2 separate regions of the Homo sapiens genome follow, and region 1 is linked to region 2. The links come from fine-mapping of genetic effects on gene expression. A gene starts in region 2. The other region holds a variant in brackets. All regions are shown on one strand. Distances are from middle to middle. Region 1 overlaps TTC39A (tetratricopeptide repeat domain 39A). Region 2 holds the start of TTC39A (tetratricopeptide repeat domain 39A).

Region 1 (10,503 bases), 41 kb after region 2:
ATTCAAGGCTGCCCACACCCATTGCCTATTGCCTGATTTGAGACTCACATCAACCCTCTGAGTAGGCGCTGCTGGTGTCTCCATTTTACAGATGGGGGTAATAAGGCCTAATAGATTAGTAGAAAGATCAAATAACTTGCCCAGGTCACACAGCTGGTGAGTTGGAGTCAGAATTTGAACTCAGCAGTCTGGGCCCACAGCCCATATTCTGAGCCATGGTTGTGATGCTAATTCTATGCACGATTTGAGTAGGCATCAGATAAAGTTCCAGCTTGCTAAGAGTCCTTGTTATTCAAGTAGTAAGGGAGCCAGAAAAGTAGAAGGAAGCCTGCTTGAGAGACCTTTTTCTGGTCCTGGCTGTACTGTTCATTAACTGAGTAGCTTTAGGTCGGTTCCCTCTTCCCCTTATGTAAAATGGGTATAATAATAGATTCCTTTCCCATTTTACAGAGCAGTTATGAGTATCAACGAGGAAAATGTGTTAAACACTTTATAAATTGAAACGGTCAATATTTATATAGTTTGATTTAGCACTTACAACCTGAATATTTCTAAAGTTTTAAAATATTTTATGGTTTAAAATATACCATAGGCCAGGCATGGTGGCTCACGCCTGTAATCCCAGCACTTTGGGAGGCTAAGGCAGGCAGATCACCTGAGGTCAGGAGTTAGAGACTGGCCTGATCAACATGGAGAAACCCCACCTCTACTAAAAATACAAAATTAGCCGGGCGTGGTGGCGCATGCCTGTAATCCCAGTTACTCGGGAGGCTGAGGCAGGAGAATCTCTTGAATCTGAAAGGTGGAGGTTGCAGTGAGCTGAGATCGTGCCATTGCACTCCAGCCTGGGCAACAAGAGTGAAACTCCATCTCAAAAAAAAAAAAAAAAAATACAGTAAAGCTATTACTATCAAGTGGAGCAGGAGGATATTGTAGGAAGGGCAAGGGCAGCAACTATACCAAAAACTTAGGGGAGAATTTCCCAAACTGTAATCTGCAAAATACTGTTTATGCATTAAATGATTTATGTGATTAAATACATTTGGGAAAGACTGGCCTAAACACAGTTTATATACTATAGGCTTTCTTGGAGTCTTTATATATTAATCTAAGAAGAAGTTTAAAGATATGTTTTTTCTCTAACTTATTTGGCCACAGAATCATTTCTAATTTTTATTTATTTCGGGGGAAGGGGAGAATCCTTTTTTAAAAAATGAAACATTTGCTGGCTGGGTGTGGTGGTTCATGCCTGTAATCCCAGAACTTTGGGAGGCCAGGGTAGGTGGATCGTTTGAGACCAGGAGTTCAAGACCAGCCTGGCCAACATGGTGAAACCCCATCTTTACAAAAAATTCAAAATTTAGTGGGGCATGGTGTCCTGCATCTGTAGTCCCAGTTTCTTGGGAGGCTGAGGTGGGAGGATCGCTTGAGCCCAGGAGGTCAAGGCTACAGTGAGCTGTGATAGTGCCACTGCACTCCAGCCTGGGTGACAGAGTGAGACCCTGTCTCTAAAATAAAATAAAATAGAATGAAACATTTGCTAACTTGGGACCACAGAACAGTTGAGAAATACTGGTCTAAACTGAAATTCCCTTCCTAGAACATAACAAGAACCACAACAATAATGTCTTTCTAGAACTTTATGGCTACAAAGTGTTTTCACATCCATTATCTTCTTTGATAGTTTAGGAAATGCTCATTTAAGCAAACACAGTTACTATGAATGAAAGTTTAGTACTATTATTTTATTTTATTTATTTTTAAATATTTATTTTAGAGGTGGGGTCTCACTCTGTCATGCAGGCTGGAGTGTAGTGGTGATATCAGCTCACCACAGCCTCAAACTCCTGGGCTCAAAGGATCCTCTCACTTCAGCCTCCTGACTACAGGTGTGCACCGCCATGCTCAGCTACTATTTTTATTTTTTTGTAGAGATGATATCTCACTGTGTTGCCCAAGCTGGTGTTGAACTCCAGGGCTCAAGAGATCCTCTAACCTCAGCCTCCCAAAGTGCTGGAATTACAGGCGTAAGCCACTGCATTCAGCCTAATTTAGTATTCTGAGCTTCCTGGCAGTCGAGGCAAAAACAAACAAACAAAAGGAACCAATAGCCTGACAAAGACATGGTGAAAAGAATTTTTTTTTTTTTTTTGAGATAGAATCTCACTCTGTCACCCAGGCTGGAATGCAGTGGGGTGATCATAGCTCACTGCAGCCTAGATTTCTTGGGCTCCAGCGATCCTCCCACCTAAGCCTCCCAAGTAGCTGGGACCCCAGGCTTGCACCACCATGCCTGGCTAATTTTTTTTTTTTTTTTTTTTTTTTTTTTGGTGGAGATGGGGTTTCGCCATGTTGCCCAGGCTGGTCTTGAACTCCTGAGCTCAAGTGATTATGATCCACCTGCCTAAGCCTTCCAAAGTGCTGGGATTACAGGTGTGAGCCACCATACCTGGCCCCAAGACTTTTTTTTTGAGACGGAGTCTCTGTCACCCAGGCTGGAGTGCAGTGGTGCCATCTCGGCTCACTGCAACTTCCGCTTCCTGGATTCAAGTGATTCTCCTGTCTCAGCCTCCCGAGTAGCTGGAATTATAGGTGTGTGCCACCACACCCGGCTAATTTTTGTATTTTTAGTAGAGATGGGGTTTCACCATGTTGGCCAGGCTAGTCTCGAACTCCTGACCTCAGGTGATCCACTCATCTCGGCCTCCCAAAGTGCTGGGATTACAGGCGTGAGCCGCTGTGCCTGGCCCCCCCCAAATTTTTTTAACTAAAAAAAAAGAATCTAAGAAAAAGAATAAAAGGAATCAGATGTGTTTTAAGAGTCTCAATGATGGTAACTTCATTCTAAAGGAAATGGAATATGAATGTCATTATTTAGCCCATTGCTTTGGGAGACTAGGAGTAGAAGAGAAGGTGACATAGCCTTAAATTCTGTTGTCCTGAAATGTGTGTATGGAGCATGGCCTGGTCCTCAAAGGACAGAAAGTGTTTGGCCCCAGAGAGGTTGGGAGAAAGGACATAATAGCACTCAGGGAGGGCATGAGCAGGAAAATAGCTGGAAAACTTGGGCAGCTATGAGCAGCACATTACGGACATTGGTCCATCTTACATCTTCACTGGGGTAAGGTGAGATCTCAGGAGGAAATCAATGATAAGGCTCCCATAACCCCCTCAGACCCACAGCTTCACAGGCTGACTGAGACCTGTCATGGATGATTAGAGCTAGAAGGTCCTTTAGTGAACCTCTGATCTGAACTGCCCATTTTGTAGATGGGAAAACTGAGGCCCCATTAGGGAAGAAACCTAGGACTGACTTGCCCCCCTGCCTTCAGGAAATGATGTACATCTGGAACGGCTACGCCGTGATTGGGAAGCAGCCGAAACTCACGGATGGGATACTTGAGATTATCACTAAGGCTGAAGAGATGCTGGAGAAAGGCCCAGGTGACTTCCCTCAGGCCCTTGGGCCTGCCATGCTAGGTCAGGTCTTTACAGCTGAAGCTTCCCTCTGCCAAAAATGTCCTTCCTCCTTTCCCTACCCTGGCAACTCTCCTTTATCTCTCTAGACTGAGCTCCTCCAAGCAGCTGTTCCTTGTCCACCTGGTAGGGTCAAAGCCTCTGGGCTCCCGCAGCCTTGGGGCTTCCTTCAGTGCTGACCTCACTGTATTGTCATTGTCTCAGTATTTGCCTTTCCTTCTTAGATGTGACCCCTGCTGAGGACAGGGACTGTGTCTGATTTACCTGTGTCCCTTTGACCTAGCACAAAGTAGGGGGCTCCATAAGTAACTGCTGCAGAAATGAACAAGTCTGTCTTTTTCCCTCACATCCCTATTTTCAGAGAACGAGTACTCAGTGGATGACGAGTGCTTGGTGAAATTGTTGAAAGGCCTGTGTCTGAAATACCTGGGCCGTGTCCAGGAGGCCGAGGAGAATTTTAGGAGCATCTCTGCCAAGTAAGTGCCTCTGCAGCTGCTCCTTCTGGGTCTGAGTCTCCTGGGTAGAATATTCAGGGCTTCTCCATCCTCATGCCCACTGCAGTGGCTGACCCTAGCCAACCCCCACTCACCACACAGGTACTAAACCAGTGTCCACTCTGTGCCAGGACTTGTGCCGGGAGCTGTACAGATAATTCAGACCTAGCCTCCCAGTGCCACCAAATTGCCTGACTACAGGAGTCCATCCACGTTGTTTTGAGTGAACAGTGTCCCCTGGAGTTTGTAATTCGGTGACTCTATCCTTGCCCTCAGGGAGGGCAATGTGACAGATGGCAAGCTGTAGGCAACCCAACCAAGGCTCGTCAGGGCCATGCTAAAGGAAAGCGGAGAGGACAGCAGGTGCCCCAAGAAGGGACCTAAACTTAATGGGAGATACCAGGAAAGGCTTTCCAAGGCTGATGTTGAAAGTGGGAAGTTCATCAGGCAGAGAAAGCAAGGGAGGACAGGTTTGAAGTGGAGTAAGTACAGCATGCACCAGTGCATGGACACAGGAAAGACATCTGAGGCTGGGGTGACGGTGATGGGGTCTTTACCTGCCTGGGTGAAGTCATAGAGAGAAAAGATTGAAGATGAAAAAGGAGGGATAGAATGAGAAGGGCCTGGATGTTTTGTTCACAAGGCTAAATTGTATCCCAAAGAAGACAGCCAGAAAGGGTACCGGGCAAGGAGGACTTGGGGTTTAAAAGGATATCTCCAGGACAGCATGGAGGTCGGGTCAGAGAGGGTAGATCAGAGACAGGAGACTTTACAGTTTAATAAACCATTCAACCTGGAGAAAGGGAGGTCGGGACTTAGGTGGCGGTGGACTAAGGACATGACAGGAGCCATAGGTTGTCAGGGAGCTGGAGCCCAAGGTACAGGATGGGAAGGCTTTGCTATGGATCCCAGCCTTTCTAGGGCTGGGTAGTGGGAACCTCCCAAAATTGGAGTTCGGGTTAGGAAATCCTCACATGCAGTTTGGGAGAGGCTCAGGAGGAGGAACCTGAGCCATGTCCTCTGTTCTGCAGTGAAAAGAAGATTAAATATGACCACTACTTGATCCCAAACGCCCTGCTGGAGCTGGCCCTGCTGCTTATGGAGCAAGACAGAAACGAAGAGGCCATCAAACTTTTGGAATCTGCCAAGTAAGGCTTGGGTAACCTCAGTCTGTCCTTTGCTCCCTCTGAACTCAGCTCAGGAGCTGGCTGGGGACAGAGTTGCCCAGAGAGCAGTGAGTGGAGTTGCTAGCAAGGCCAGTCTGGCAGTCTAGAGGGTGGACCTGTGTCCCTCGGAATCCAGCTCTCGCCTGTCATAGGAAGACTTCTTTCTTAATGTATAAATGCGCAGTTAGACTCCCAGAGGCAGGAAGTAAGTTCCCAAGGTCACATCAGAAGCCAACTGCATGGCTGTGTGAGGACCCATGCCTCCTGCCTTCCAGGGTAGGGGTCTATTCCCTAAAACCACCCCTTCAAGCTTAGGAACCCAGGAGGACCAGGAGTGGTTCCAGTGGCCATGATACCAGGGATGAGGGGCCACAAACCCTTCTGGTTAACTCTCCCATTGGGTAGGGCTCAACTCTCTCTGGACACATTAATTTCTCTACAATCCTTCCTTGGCTCGCGGGGCTCATACAGCTCAAACAGGAGGAAAAGCATCTCTGGGAGCAGGCAGCCTCATGTGTCTGATTCGCTGCTCAATTCCAGGCAAAACTACAAGAATTACTCCATGGAGTCAAGGACACACTTTCGAAT[C/T]CAGGCAGCCACACTCCAAGCCAAGTCTTCCCTAGAGAACAGCAGCAGATCCATGGTCTCATCAGTGTCCTTGTAGCTTTGTGCAGCAGTTCCGGGCTGGAAGACAGAGACAGCTGGACAGAGCTCCTGAAAACATTTCAAAATACCCCCTCCCCCTGCCCTGCCCTGCCTTTGGGGTCCACCGGCACTCCAGTTGGATGGCACAACATAGTGTATCCGTGCAGAAGCCGAGCTGGCATTTTCACCAGTGTAGCCAAGGGCCTTTGCCAAGGGCAGAGCAGGTGGAGCCCTCTGCCTGCCCTATCACACATACGGGTACTTGCTTTTCACTGTGATGTTTAAGAGAATGTATGAACAGTTTACATTTTCCTTAGAAATACATTGATGGGATCACAGTTGGCTTTAAAAACCAACAACAATCAACCACCTGTAAGTCTTTGTCTTCACCTATTATCATCTGGAGGTAAATCTCTTTATATGATGATGCCAAAGGGCAAATTGCTTTTCAAATTCAGCAAGTTCTCAGCTTGTGTGACGGAAGGTCCTTCAGAGGACCTGAGGAATGCCTGGGAGAGGCTAAGCCTCAGGCTTCAATGCTTCTGGGGTTGGGCATGAGGATGTACACAGACACCCACTACCTTACTACTCACACTTCATTTCACTCCTTTTGTAAATTTCCAATTTAAAAATCAAGCACGTCTTTTTAGTGAGATAAAATCTGAGCTCTTCTGTAGAAAAATCAATCTCTACCAGTAGAAAATGCCAGGGCTTGATGGAAGAGCTGTGTAGCCCTTTCTATGCCAAAGCCAGGAAATTTGGGGGGCAGGAGGAGGTTCTCAGAATCCAGTCTGTATCTTTGCTGTATGCCAAACTGAAACCACTGGGAATAATTTATGAAACATAAAAATCTTCTGTACTTCACTCCAAGGTACATTTGCTTACTGACAGCATTTTTGTTAAAACTGTTATTCTTGACCTGTTGTGTATGCGTTAGATTCTTCAGTTAAGAGAAAAGAGATATTTAAGTGATAAAATTTATGCCCTTAAGGGATCGTGCATCATGTATTTCAATAAAATATGTGTTGCATGAATCCTTAGGCCAGGCAGAAAGTCTTGATCAGAAGCCACACGGCCTATGTATGTTTTATTTAGACCACACAATGTTTTAAACTTTTTGAATAAGTTACCAGCATTCACAAATGGGGAGATTTTACAGATGAATCTGGTTCCTGGCCTGTAATTTAAAAACAAACAAACAAAAATGGCAACATTGAGCCTCATTCCCATGAGGCAACAATCAGCTAGAGCTAAGTCCAGGCTACTTTAAACACTTCTGTTACCTTTCTGGCCCCTAAAAGCATCTGAATTTGCAACCTCTAGGATTGTTAAAGTGAGAACTCAGGTTCAATGACCAACACCAGGTTTTACTCTTCACTTTCTGATGTCAGCACACTTCAACCTAACCATTTCCCCGTAGGGAAAATCATGCACACAGTAAAAATATTCATCTGTGAAAACGTTACTCCCCAAATGCATGAATGCAGTTTCTACGAGAGAAGAACCAGTTAAACTTTCCAATCTTCTAGGATTGCTGTATTTAACAAACACGAGTATCTGCCAAGGGTCTGGGTTAATATATAAAGATCCAGTCGGTCGGGCACGATGGCTCACGCCTGTAATCCCAGCACTTTGGGAGGTTGAGGTGGGTGGATCATGAGGTCAGGAGATCGAGACCATCCTGACCAATATGGTGAAACCTCGTCTCTACTAAAAATTAAAAAATTAGCTGGGCGTGGTGGCGCATGCCTGTAGTCCCAGCTACTTGGGCAGGAGAATCGCTTGAACCCAGTAGGCAGAGGTTGCAGTGAGCTGAGATCGTGTCATTGTACTCCAGCCTGGCGACAGAGGGAGACTCCATCTCAAAAAAAAAAAAAAAAGATCCAGTTGACCAGCCTCCTATGGGTGACATCGAATGAAGTAATGGGTTTTAGGCAAAATATATTATTAGGAAAAAAAGCAAAAAAACCCTCACCCAAGATTATCTTTTCCAATGAGTATTGTCAGAGTAGAAATGCTATGAAAAAAAAATCTCTCATATTATTAGAATGAAACAAAAGAATGTCCTCCATAGAGAGTAATCCCTTTGCAAGCTATCTCTTCTCCAAAGCCTGGATGCTGGGAGACCAACCTGTTTCTAGGCTCCTGGACAGGACAGGGTGAGCGGGTAGAGACAGGCTGCAGGAGGACAGGCCTCCATGGCTTCCCCACATGTTGGAATGTTGCCTGCTGCTGTATCAAAGCAGCACTACTCACAGGACACCAAACACATACTTTGGAAAATTGCAGTTTACAAAAAAACTCATTTCGGGTGCTTTTTTTTTTTTTTTTTTTTTTGAGACAGTCTCGCTATGTCACCAGGCTGGAGTGCAGTGGCGCGATCTCAGCTCACTGCAACCTCTGCCTCCCGGGTTCAAGCAATTCTCCTGCCTCAGCCTCCTGAGTAGCTGGGATTACAGGCATGCGCCACCATGCCCAGCTAATTTTTGTATTTTTAGTAGAGATGGGGTTTCACCATGTTGGCCAGGATGGTCTCGATCTCCTGACCTCGTGATCCACCTGCCTTGGCCTTCCAAAGTGCTGGGATTACAGGCATGAGCCACCACGCCCGGCCACGGGTGCTTTCATTTTAAAATTTGGTCAAGATGATTTCCTCGTCAACATTTGCTGTTTATTTCCTCCTGGGCTTTGTTAATTAATCCTATGTCACTTTTACCTCTGCTGCCCTGATAAGATAAATCAGTGGGTTTTGCCTCCTGTACCCCACCTGCAAATTCTGAGATAATCTATCAAATATATACATATACATACATATGTGAAGGACAATGAAAACACTGGGTTTCTAACATCACCACATCCTTATGCAAGGGCGTTTTCAAGAAAGTGAAAATTCTGTCATAGGCTCTCAATGTCTTATTTGAGTCATCTGTGGTCACTGCTTCTCTAATAGTGCAGACCTTCCCAGCACATCTGCCATGGAGAGGCCACAGATCAGGTGGAAGGTTTGAGCCTGGAAATAAGGAGACCTGAATTCCAGTCCTGACTTTGCTACTGATTTTCAAAGTAACCTTGGGAAAGTCACAGATCCTCTAAAAATGAGCAATTTGGACAAGATTAAGGCTCTTTCCTGCCTTCTACAGTTTCTTTATGGGTTTTCATCTGCAAAATGAGGCAACAGATACACTTCCCTACCTTTCTGCCAAAGCCTTGTGTCCCTAAGCAATTCAACCAGAAATAATAGACTTCTTAGGGGCTCTACAGTAGCCAGAACACCCAGAGAGCAAGTAATCCTCATTTAGAGAAAGTCTAAATCCTGTGCCCCAAGATGAATTCAGTTGTTAGGGAAGTAGCAATGATGTAACATGATCTGAACAGGTCCTTGGCAACAGAAAGTCTACCTCAGCCTCTCACTGATCACAGGCCCTCAGAATGGCAGAGTGGCTTCTAGCAGTGTGCTGGGCCCTCAGCTCTCCCATGGGTTGGCAGGTTGCCCTATTCCTTATCTCTTGAGCCAGAATGGGAGTGTTTCCAAGACAGTTATCATTCACAGCAGAAAGCCACAACCTGACATCAAAGCCAGGATCCTAAAAGGCCAACACCAACTCAAGATTTGGCTGAGGTCCAGGTGGGAGATTCCCAAGTGAAGAATGGCACCAAGAGGTTTTAAGAAAGCCCCAGTGTGCTGAGTACTAGAACCATTCAAGGAATCAAATCCAGACCCTTTCCTCTGGAGTTACTCCCAAGATCATTTCTTCTAAGATGATGGGAGTCAACAGTCTTTTCCTTGTTTACTTCAAATTTAAAGCCTAACAGTGCCTTCTCAACATCCTCAGCATCATCACACTAATTCAGTAATAAATGAGAGGTGTCTGGATTCTGCAATCCAAGCAGCAAATGGGAACTTCTCACGCCCACCCTCAGATGCAGCCTTCCAAGGTCGGAAAGTGCCTTCTGCTCGGGTTAGCACGGCTCCTTTGAATTCCAGTGCAAAGTTCATTACTGATTAATAGGCTAGGTCCACAAACAAGAAACCTCATTTGGGGACTCGAAAACTCCATCTCTAAATGAGTAATCTATGACTGCTTCCACTGTATAAAGTCAACTGTTAAGTGACAAAATAAGAATAGAGCCCTTTGGGAAGACATAGAATGAACTATTGAAGGTCTCTATGGACTGTTAAAAGTTCATGTTTGGCTGGGCGTGGTGGTTCACGCCTGTAATCCCAGCACTTTGGGACGCCGAGGCAGGTGGATCACAAGGTCAGGAGATTGAGACCATCCTGGCCAACATGGTGAAACTCGGTCTCTACTACAAATACAAAAATTAAGTGGGCGTGGTGGCAGGCACCTGTAGTCCCTGCTACTCAGGAGGCTGAGGCAGAATTGCTTGAACCCGGTTGGTGGAGCTTGCAGTGAGCCGAGATCGCGCCTCTGCACTCCAGCCTGGGTGACAGAGCGAGACTCTGTCTAAAAAAGAAAAAAAAGTGGATGTTTAATCAGAGACATCACAGCTAATGTCTCACAAATGACTAGATCAGGTTTGTTTTTCTTCCTCCACATTAAACACTCCAGAACATCAGACACCAATATGCTCTGGGGAAAAGAATAAAAGCTAGTATTTATTAAATACTCATTATGTGCCAGTTGCTATTCTAAGTACTTTACATTTATTTAATCCTCATAATATTTACATAATCCTATGAAGTGGGGCCATTGTCATTT
Region 2 (10,503 bases):
GGTCTCCTGACAGGAGGAAGGCATCCAGGACTCAGGATGCTGTCCCATCGCCAGGGCCCAGCTGTCACCTCAAGGTGGGGACACACAGGTGATCCAAGTAAGGTCACTTGAGTTGGGGAGGCAGAAATGATGATGGTGACTCACAGACTCCCCTGTGCTGGGGCTGGGCCAGAGCTCCTGGGGGCCAGGAACGGCCTGGGTGGGGCCCTCCTGAGGGGTGGGCCACTCTGATGCGCTGACTCACCAGGTGACTGGCTCTAGCATCACTGTTCGCTGTGATGGTGTGGGGAGAGTTCCAGCTCTAAAGGCGGCTCTTCTGCTTCCCTTACTGAGCTCATTTTTCATCTGTGAAATGGGGAGGAAAGTAGTGTCTAGTGGTCCACCACAACCATCACTAGGTCATTTATATAGCACTCTGCTATTTTCTTTCTTTTTTTTTTTTTGAGACAGGGTCTCACTCTGTTACCCAGGCTGGAGTGCGGTGGCACCATCATGGCCCACTGCAGCCTCAACCTCCTGGGCTCCATTGATCCTCCTGCCTCAGACTCTGGAGTAGCTGGGACTACGTACCCCATGCCGGGCTTTTTTTTGTTTTAGATGGAGTTTCACTCTTGTTTCCCAGGCTGGCGTGCAATAGTGCGATCTTGGTTCACCGCAACCTCCGCCTCCCGGGTTCAAGCGATTCTTCTGCCTTAGCCTCCCATGTAGCTGGAATTATAGGCATGCACCACCACACCTGGCTAATTTTGTATTTTTAGTGGAGACAGGGTTTCTCTGTGTTGGTCAGGCTGGTCTCGAACTCCTGACCTCAGGTGATCCGCCCACCTCAGCCTCCCAAAGTGCTGGGATTACAGGCATGAGCCACCACAACTGGCCTGGCCTTTTTTTTTTTTTTTTTTTTTGTAGAGACAGGGTCTCACCATGTTGCCCAGGCTGGTCTCAAACTCCTGGGCTCATGCAATCCACCTGCTTTGGCCTCCTAAAGTGCTGGGATTACAGGTGTGAGCCACCATGCTCAGCTTATATATGAATTCTTAATACTCGGAGCAACCTTGGAAGTCGGCAATATTATTTCCATTTTACTGATGAGGAAACTGAGGCTCAGAGAGGTGGTAAAGTGAAAATTAAATAAGATAATCCATGTTATACACTGAACATCATGTGTAGCATGTAAAAAGCCTGTGATGTGTGTCAGCCATTGTTATAATAATAACCTCAGAGGGAAATTGTAAAGTGCTAGGCCCCGCATTAGTGTCTGGTGACTAGTCAGGTACCTGATGTCAGGCCCTGAGACACAGAGATGAACTGGACCAGGCCCTAGCCTCCAGAAGCAGACAGTCACATACAAACCTCACTCTCTGCTCCCCACCACCCCAAACACACATACCACACACAGACAGTGACAGCTCAGGGTGATTAAGGTAGGTCAGAGTGGGTTAGGGCAGTGGGTGCAAAGGGAGCCCCTGACCCATCTATGGAGGGAGGGCTTCCTGGAAGAGGTGACATCTGAACTGAAACCTGCAGGGTTAGGAGGAGTTTTGGCATATGGCAAAATGTCAACAAATGTTGGTCAAATACAGTAAAGGTTTACTCTGGAGCTAATACAGCTTATAGCTTCAGGATTCTTCACTTACCTGGCCCCTGCCAAGGCTCTGGGAGAACCCTGGCAATTTTATACAGGCTGACTATCCCTAACCCAAAATGCTCTGGACCAGAAGTGTTTCAATTTTTGGATTTTCATGGATTTTGGAATATTTGCATATGCATAATGAATTATCTTGGGGATGGGGTCCAAGCCTAAACATGAAATTCATTTGTGTTTCATATACAACTTATACACATAGCCTAATGGTCATTTTTTTTTTTTTTTTTTTTTTGGTGGGGGCGATGGAGTTTTGCTCTTGTTAACCCAGGCTGGAGTGCAATGATGTGATCTCAGCTCACTGCAACCTTCGCCTTCCGGGTTCAAGCGATTCTCCTGCCTCAGCCTCCCGAGTAGCTGAGATTACAGGCGTGCGCCACCATGCCTATCTAATTTTGTATTTTTAGTAGAGATGGGGTTTCTCCATGTTGGTCAGGCTGGTCTCGAACTCTTGACCTCAGGTGATCTGCCTGTCTCAGCCTCCCAAAGTGCTGGGATTACAGGCATGAGCCACCATGCCCAGCCACCTAAAGGTAATTTTATACACAATATTTTTAATAATTTTGTGCATGAAACAAAGTTTGTGTACACTGAACCATCAGAAAGAAGTGTCACTCTCTCAGCCATCCATGTGGACAATCTGTGATTATTTGGCATCATCATCATTTTTGACTCTGAATTTATGTGCTCCCAATAAGCATTTTTTTACCCTTATTCACACATAAGTACTTAACAATAAAAATATAACATACCATTAATGCAGTGAAAAAATAGTGTTCAGGGTAACTCAGCAGCACGTGAGCATCAGTAGAATGCCTGTGTCCGCTGTAACAACAGCACAGCAAACATGGCAGGCCTGCAGTCTCCAACTACAGTGCTCAAAAAGCTTCAAGTTTCAGGCCGGGCGCGGTGGCTTACGCCTGTAATCCCACTGTGGGAGGCCAAGGTAGGCGGATCACTTGAGGTCCAGAGTTTGAGACCAGCCTGGCCAACATGGCAAAACCCTGTCTCTACTAAAAATACAAAAATCAGCTGGGCATGGTGGCACATGCCTGTAATCTCAGCTACTCGGGAGGCTGTGGGATGAGAATCACTTGAACCCAGGAGACGGAGGTTGTGGTGAGCCAAGATCACGAGATTGTGCCACTGCACTCCAGCCTGGGTAACAGAGTGAGACTTTGTCTCAAAAAAAAGAGAAAATAAAAAAAGCTTCAAATTTTGGAGCATTCTGGATTTCGGATTTTCAAATTAGGAATGCTCAACCTGTATTGGTAAATTTGTATTCTTTTTTTGAACAGCGGCCTCCCCATTGTAAGCTTCTGGATCCACCCCCGGTTACATGAATGACTAACAAGTGACAAGGGAGGAAGGTGTGTTCCACACAGAGGGAACAGCATGTTTAAATGCCTAGAGATTTGAAAGTGCATGACATGTGATAGGGGCCCCAGCCTCATCATCCTCTTTACATGTATTGCTTGTGGTCTCACCAGCCTCACCCTTTCCCACTTCCATGCCTTCATCCATGCTGCTCCCCGATCTGGTACACCCTCTCCATGACTTCAGTTTGTTTAAATAATATAAACTTCAAGGCTCAGTTCTGTCACCACCTCTTCCAGGAAGCTCCCCAGTCTCTCCCCTTGTCTGGATTCTTTATAGTTGCTGGTGGATGTCATCATAGCTTACTTCTAGTAGTTAATTATCTTTTTCGTGCCTGTATATGAGACTCCTAGAGATGGGATGATTCTTGCAAGTGAGCATCTGCCCCTGCTCACAAATGGGCAGGATGGGACTTCACTGCCTTTCCAGGCAGCCTGCTTAGATTTTAAGCAGCTACCACCAAGCCCAAACTGCCTGGCTCCCCTGGGATCTGGTACAAGTCCTGTTCCCACCGTGGTTGCTTCTGCAGGCTGTCCCCTTCTGCTTCCTCTTCTGACGTCCTGGAGGTCATAGTTGCTCCAGGGGAGCTACAGTCCTTCCTTACTTCTGTCCCCTCCTTTGTGAAGGGACAGCTCTAATGGCAGCCACATGCTCTGATGAGTCATGGTTAAGAGCAGCATCTGGGGCCAGGAGATGGTGACTGGTTAACTCTTCATGGGCCAGTGGCTTTCTGTGCCAGAAGATCAGGTCAGGTGGAGACACCGCCTCAGGGCTCGGTGCACAGTGGACATTTGGGGAGCGTTGTGGGTGACCCCCACACAGGCACTGGGAATGCAGGGGAGAGGGGGCCAAGGGGGAAAGGGGCCAGAGTGTTGGCTTTGGATTCAGGAGGGATGGATTCCAGTCCTAGCTTGCCACTTATTAGGTGAGTGACCATGCGTGAATCAAATGAACCCCATGCCTCAGTTTCCCCATCTGTAAAATAGCAATTATGGGGATCATTTGAGAAGGCAGTGTGAACTGCCAGCTAGCAGTGAGTGCTAAACCGTGTTTTCCCCGCCTTCTGGTCTCCTGCAGTCACTCAGTGGGCGAGATGGTGGGATTAAAATCCAGGCCTGACTCTGGGGGCTGTCTTTGTCTGCACGAATGCCCCCATTAATGCGGGAGGATGGTGACGGCTCAGGTGGGGGCCGCTTCGGGGCGGAAGCTGTGGGGAGGAGAAGTGACAGTAAAGTGGACCTCAGGTCCCGGAGAAGAACTTCTAGCGCCAAATAGGTGGGGACGTGTGAGGAGGGAGCGAGCTCCCGGCCCGGGCGGTGTCTGCGCAGAGGGCGCCGGGCTCTCACCTGTCGGAGCGGGGGTGGGGGCCGCCCAGAACCCCCGGCGGTGCGGGAGCGCGGGTCGCCGCGGGCGGCCATGGCCCTACGGTGCGGGTGGGGAGACCGAGGCTCGGCCCGGCCCCGCCGCCTTCCCCGCCCCCGGCGCGCCCCTCCCCGGCCGCCGCGTCCGCGACCGCACAGCGCCCGGCTCGGGGTTGCGGCGGCAGCACCTGGGCCGCGATTGGCGTCCGGCTGGGGCAGCGCCGCCCGCGCCCCTCGGCGATGACCTCGGCTGGCGGCGCCCCAGGAGCCCTGCCCGCGGGGTAAGTGCGCGGCTGGGAGGCCCGGGGGCGCGGGCGGCGCGGGCTGGGGCCCGGGCAGGTGGCGGGCGCCGCGCCAGGCCTCCCCCCGCGCACCGGCCTGGGGCCGCACTGCGGCTTCCAGCCCCCACCCCGCCCGGCCCCTGGCAGCCGCCGCCGCTGCCAGGAGTGGGGGCAGGGGGCTGTGAGGAGGCGGAGGCGCGGGGACCCCGGGTCGGTCACTCACCTTCTGGGTCCCAACTTTCTCACGGAGCTGTAGTCACAGACACGTTCAGAGCAGCCTTCCCCACCTGCCTCGTGGCGTTCACTCCTGTGGGGTGGGCCCTGTTACTCTCATCCCCATTACAGATGAGGAAACTGAGACACAGCACTTAAGTGACTTGTCATCGGTCACCCAGGAGGTAAGAGTTGCGGGTGGGATTTGAACTCAGTTCTGTCTGTTGTCAGATCCCCCCACCCCATCATCTTCAGGGACATTAGGGGAACTTAAACAGCTAAGGTATGGGCCAGCCGGGCCCATTGGGTGCAGCAGGAACCTGGGTAGTAAAAAGTGGGTGTTGTCACCTTCAACGTGGCTCTCCTGCCCAACCCTACCCACATCCCACTGAGAAACCCCTATAGGACCCCTACCTAGATCACCCCCCGTAGCAGTGACAGCCGCTACTGCCGGGAGACCTTCAGCAACTCTCTGCTTTTCCTGGGCCCCAGTGGGCAGGGCAGGGGGCAGCTGCTAGGAGCCCTGACTGCTGGGAGGTTGCTGGGCAGAGAGCCGGCCCAGGTGAGCTGGGAGGAGGGCTCACCCTGCCTGGAGCCTCACCACCAGTGACAATATTTGCTAAGGGCCCGAGGCTTGACACATGAACAGGGAGGTGACGAGGCTGGTGCCAGCTGGCAGCTGGAAGTCTCCACAGGGCTTGCGTGTGTGTGGCTCTATCAGGGCTTGGAAGCTGGGTTGCTGGGGGACACCCTGGCCTGGGAGAGGGTTGCCTGGTGAGTTTCAGCTTCATCATTTTTGTTGTGTGACTTTGGCCAAGTCCTTAACCCTTCCTAGACTTCTGGTCCCTCCTTTGGAAAACACAGAAGTGGGGCTGGCTGTTCCTTTCCTGTTCTGGGCTCAAGTATTTGTAAAGCTGGAGGTTGGGTAGGTTCCTTCTGTGCAGCCCTGACTGAGCACCACCACCCTGCTGGGTCCAGAAAAGTGGTTTCCAGGAGAGAAGGCGGGCATGGAGCAAGGTATCTATCAAAGAAGTCTAGACTCCCTGGCTGAAAACCACATTCATCCCACTTCCTTATATGCTTACATCCCTGCCTAAGTGCCCTCTACAACCCCGGGCACCTCTGGCCCTGCTGCAGGCCTCAGGACAGCAAGCTTGCTCTTCTCACGCTGGTGGGTCTTCCTTATGCAGAACCGTACCTGCCTCTCTGCATGCCTGCCCACTCTTCTTTGAAGCCACCTGTCCATCTGTCCCCAACCCTGGCTAGTGTCATCCTGGTGGGGTCTGAGCAGAGGAGGGCCGCACGCAGCAGGACCATTCTCACCTTCACTACAGAGACACTCACTCAACAGACACTCAGCAAGGCCTGCTCTGGGCCCAGATGGTCATTGGTGAACAAATCAAGCCTTAAATCTCTACCTTTTTAAAAATTATGAAATATTTTAAGCCTTCAGAAAAATATAGCAAATAGTAAAATGAACTCACAAACCCTTGCCACCCAACTTTGTCAGATATTAACATTGTGCCCCATTTATTTTATATTCTTTTTAAGAAATAAACCATAGTAGAGACCCTTGAAAGTCTTGTGGAAACCTCTTCCCTCCTTCCCTCTCCAGAATTACTTGCCATCCTGAATTTAGGTTTTATCATTTCTCTGTTTTTATTCTTTTACTCAGTGTGTGTAAGTCTTAAAAATATGTAGTTTGTTCTTCAAAGTTTTCTGTGAATGGAGTCCTATAGCATGTGTCATGCTGCAGCTCGCGTTTTCACACTCAACTTCAGGTCTCAGATTTAGCCTTGATCCTGTAGCTCTTGTCCCACTTGCCCTGATGTGTGATATACCACCCTATGTAGACACCTCCATTTGTTTATCCTTCTTGATGGATGTCGAAGTGTTCCCAGTGTCTTGCTATTCAGACAGTGAATATTCTTGTATGATGGTGTTTGCACATGTGTTTCACGAGGGTGCCCCCTTAGTAGTGGAATTGCTGGGTTGTTGGATATGTGCACTCGATCTTAAATAAAATAAAATAAAATAAAATAGAGACAGGATCTCACTTTGTTGCCCAGACTGGTCTCAAACTACTGGGTTCAAGCGATCCTCCTTCCTTGGCCTCCTGAAGTGCTGGGATTACAGGAGTAAGCCACTGCGCCTGGCCCACTCAATCTTTTAAAGTTATTTAGTTTCATTATAAAGTCAGTGCTACTTGATCAAGAAATGATGGTAAAGCCGCACGCAGTTGCTCACGCCTATAATCCCAGCACTTTGGGAGGCCCAGGCAGGTGGATGACTTGAGATCAGGAGTTTGAGATCAGCCTGGCCAACATGGTGAAACCCTGTCTCTACTAAAAATACAAAAATTAGCCTGGCATGGTGGTGCACACCTGTAATCCCAGCTACTCGGGAGGCTGAGGCAGGAGAATCTCTTGAACCCGGGAGGCGGAGGTTGCAGTGAACCCAGGTAGTGCCATTGCACTCCAGCCTGGGCGACAGAGAGAGCCTCTCTCAAAAAAAAAAAAAAAAATGGCAATACATAATTTTAGAAAAAAATAATAATTACTCACATTTTCTGAGTACTCTTGTGCTTTCCATAGTCTTAGTCATTCTTCACAAAAACCGTGGGAGGTAAGTACTGTCATTCCCATCTCCTTGATGAGGAAACGGAGGCTCATAGAGGGTATGGAACATTCCCAAGGTTATCCAGCAAGTAATAGCTGCAGCTTGAGTCTAGGGTTGTCTGCTTTCAGAACTCTTGCAGGCCACACTGCATTAGGTCATGCTACATCACTCCGTGACACATTTATGTGCAGCTAAGGGGGACTCTTTGGAAGGAGAGTCACAATCATTTTTGCAATTTAGAAAGATCACTTCTAAAGCAACAGATCCCCATGGGCAGATTATTTTACTCGTTGAGCCAAAGTTCCCCTCAGTGGTGGAGCAGGGATTAAAATCCAGCTCTGACTGCAGTTGGCTTCCTGAGCGACCGCTCCGCCGCCTCACCCACCCCACACCCACCTCATCCTGACTGGGATGGAGGTAGGAGGATTTTCTGTTCTCAGTGGGAACTGAGGGTCTCCCAGCTCTACCCAGATCTGCCCATGAGGCACAGAAGCAGCAGTCCAAGCCAACTCTAGTAGAGAAGTGGGAGGGAAGGGGAGAGTGGGGGCGGCTCCAGGCTACCTGACACCCCCTCCCACCCTCTAGCTCCCTTCTCGTTTGGGCCTCAAGTGTGGGTGGGATCTGAATGAGAGAGCCGCCACCACTGTGCCAGAGCTCCTGGCATTGGTCACCAGCTCTGCTCCATCCAGCCCAGCACCTCTTCTCCGCGTCCCTCTCCTCTGTTCCCCAACACACAGTGGAGAGGCCACCATCACCGCAGGAATAGATGTCACCTGGGCCAGGCAAGGTGTCCTTGGAAAAGAAAGGTCTTGGAGACGCAGGGGCAGCCTGTGGAGAAATGGGGGCCTCAGTCTCAGCCAGGTGAGGGGAAAGGTTTGGCGCTGTTGCTTCCACAGAATGCATTTTTGTCTTCTCCCAGGCTCCTGAGAGGAGCCTGACTGCGTTCCTGTCTTCACTGCCTGTCCCTGCCATATCTATCAAAGACAGATAAGGGTGCCTGCTGGCAGGACTGAGTGAAATAATGCAGTCATCAATTTAAATAAGTTGAAGTGGTAATCTCTTTGTGGCGATGGGTGGTTGGTTGTTAATGCTATTATTAAGTCAAATGGGGCGGATGTCTCCAGCCTTCCTGAGCTCTCTAGCCACCGCAGCCTCACCCCTCCATTTAGCTGGCCTTGCAGAGCCTCTGTCTTCCAAGCCCTTCCAGAACGCTTGTACCTCCTAACTGTGGTGTCATGCCTCCAGCCCTGTGTGTGTGCTGTTTCCCCTTCTTAGACTTCTTTCTCCATCTTGTTCTCAGTTTGATGGCATTTTCCTTGATGCCATCCTCCTTCCATGATGCCATCCTCCTTCCGCCCAGCCTCCTCAGTGCCCCAGGCTGAGTTAGAGGTGTCTTCTGGGCCCCTTTGGCCCCCAGTGATTCCCATGATCACAGCCCTGAGCACTGTAGCGGTCACTGCCCTGTCTGCATCTGTCACCTGTAGGCTGTGAGCTCCTGAAGAGGCAGGCCTAGGTCTGTGTCCACTCTGTGTCCCCAGAGCCCAGTCCCACGCATAGCCTAGAGCACGAGATTCGCGGGTGCTTGTGGGAGGGAAGGAGGGAGGAAATCAGCCCAGGGCTCAGCTCGCCCCCAGTCTGGGGGAGGTTACCGCAGACAGCCTCATCCCAGTTAAGCAGAAGAGGTGCCGGGGCTGCCGAGGGAAGGACTGTGCCTGTCTGCACTGACTGTCCATCCGGCCTGGATCTTTCTCTCCAGGTAGACCAAGTAGACAGGACCTTTTCCTCGGTGGGGGATGGAGGTGGTGAGGGGTGTGTGCAGAAATGGGAGGCAGGCTCTTGGCTCAGAAATTGTTTAGAGGTTGGCATAAACCACAACAATGGGCTTGACTTTCTGGGGCTGAGCTGATGGGTACTGGCTCAGGCAGAAACTTGGGTTAGAATGCATGCTTGGATGTGTGACCTTAGCTTGGATGTGTGACCTTAGCCAAGTTACCCGTCCTCTGTGCCTCAGTTTCCCCATCTGCAATAGGTGTGGGGGGGTAATAATCCCATTTCACAGGGCATTTTGAGAGCAGTCAGAGAGAATGCCAGTTAAACACCCAGGCAGTAGATGCTCACTGCTGCCTCATTGATTCATCCAACAGAGATGAATGGCTTGAACACCAGTCACTAGGCTATGCCCTGGGCAGAGACAGACACCATCCCAGCCTCTGAAGAGAGGGGCAGGGACCACATCAGGTGGGGCCTTTTAGGCCATGGAAAGGAACTTGGCCTTTACCCTAAGAGCAATGGGAAGCCAGGGAAAGATTTTAAGTCCAGAAGTGACATTTGTGGTTTTTTTTTTTTTTTTGAGATGGAATTTTGCTCTTGTTGCCCAAGCTGGAATGTAATGGTGCGATCTCTGCTCACCACAACCTCTGCCTCCCATGTTCAAGCGATTCTCTTGCCTCATCCTCCGTAGTAGTTGGGATTACAGGCATATGCCACCACGCCCAGTTAATATTGTATTTTTAGTAGAGGCGGGGTTTCTCCATGTTGGTCAGGCTGGTCTCGAACTCCTGACCTCAGGTGATCCGCCCGCCTCAGCCTCCAAAAATGCTGGGATTACAGGCATGAGCCACCATGCCCAGACAGATGTGGGTTTTAAAGATGTATCTTTGGCAATTATGGGAGAGACAGGTTAGGGGAAATAATGCTTCCAACATTCTCTCTCAAAGAAACTACCTAGAGGTGGGGATGAGTTACAACAAACATCCTTTAAAGTACATTCCTGGCCAGGTGCAGTGGCTCACGCCTGTGATCCCAGCACTTTGGGAGGCTGAGGCGGGTGGATCACCTGAGGTCAAACACCTGAGGAGTTTGATACCAGCCTAGCCAACATGGTGAAACCTCATCTCTACTGAAAATACAAAAAAATTAGTCGGGCATGGTGGTGGGCACCTGTCATCCCAGCTGCTTGGGAGGCTGAGGCAGGAGAATAGCTTGAACCTGGGAGGAGGAGGTTGCTGTG

Evidence for each region.
Region 1: its variant is fine-mapped to the expression of TTC39A in lung (TOPMed, PIP 0.99). The same link has a PIP of 0.9 or more in nasal epithelium.

What each region holds. Positions count from the first base shown.
Region 1 is chr1:51,283,455-51,293,957 of GRCh38, reverse strand. TTC39A (tetratricopeptide repeat domain 39A) reads left to right here. Exons shown (of 18, transcript NM_001297663.2): 15 at 3,333-3,444; 16 at 3,839-3,953; 17 at 5,003-5,119; 18 at 5,678-6,700. The coding sequence ends at 5,801. Among named protein-coding and RNA genes, the nearest start is that of TTC39A-AS1, 41 kb to the left of the region's middle. The variant C/T (reference allele first, on the strand shown) is at 5,726.
Region 2 is chr1:51,324,595-51,335,097 of GRCh38, reverse strand. It overlaps TTC39A (tetratricopeptide repeat domain 39A), which reads left to right and starts at 4,536. Exons shown (of 18, transcript NM_001297663.2): 1 at 4,536-4,661. The coding sequence starts at 4,621. It overlaps TTC39A-AS1 (TTC39A antisense RNA 1), which reads right to left and starts at 5,444. Exons shown (of 3, transcript NR_123731.1): 1 at 5,289-5,444; 2 at 4,885-4,968; 3 at 3,817-4,226. RefSeq lists an enhancer at 3,627-3,676 and a silencer at 4,494-4,563.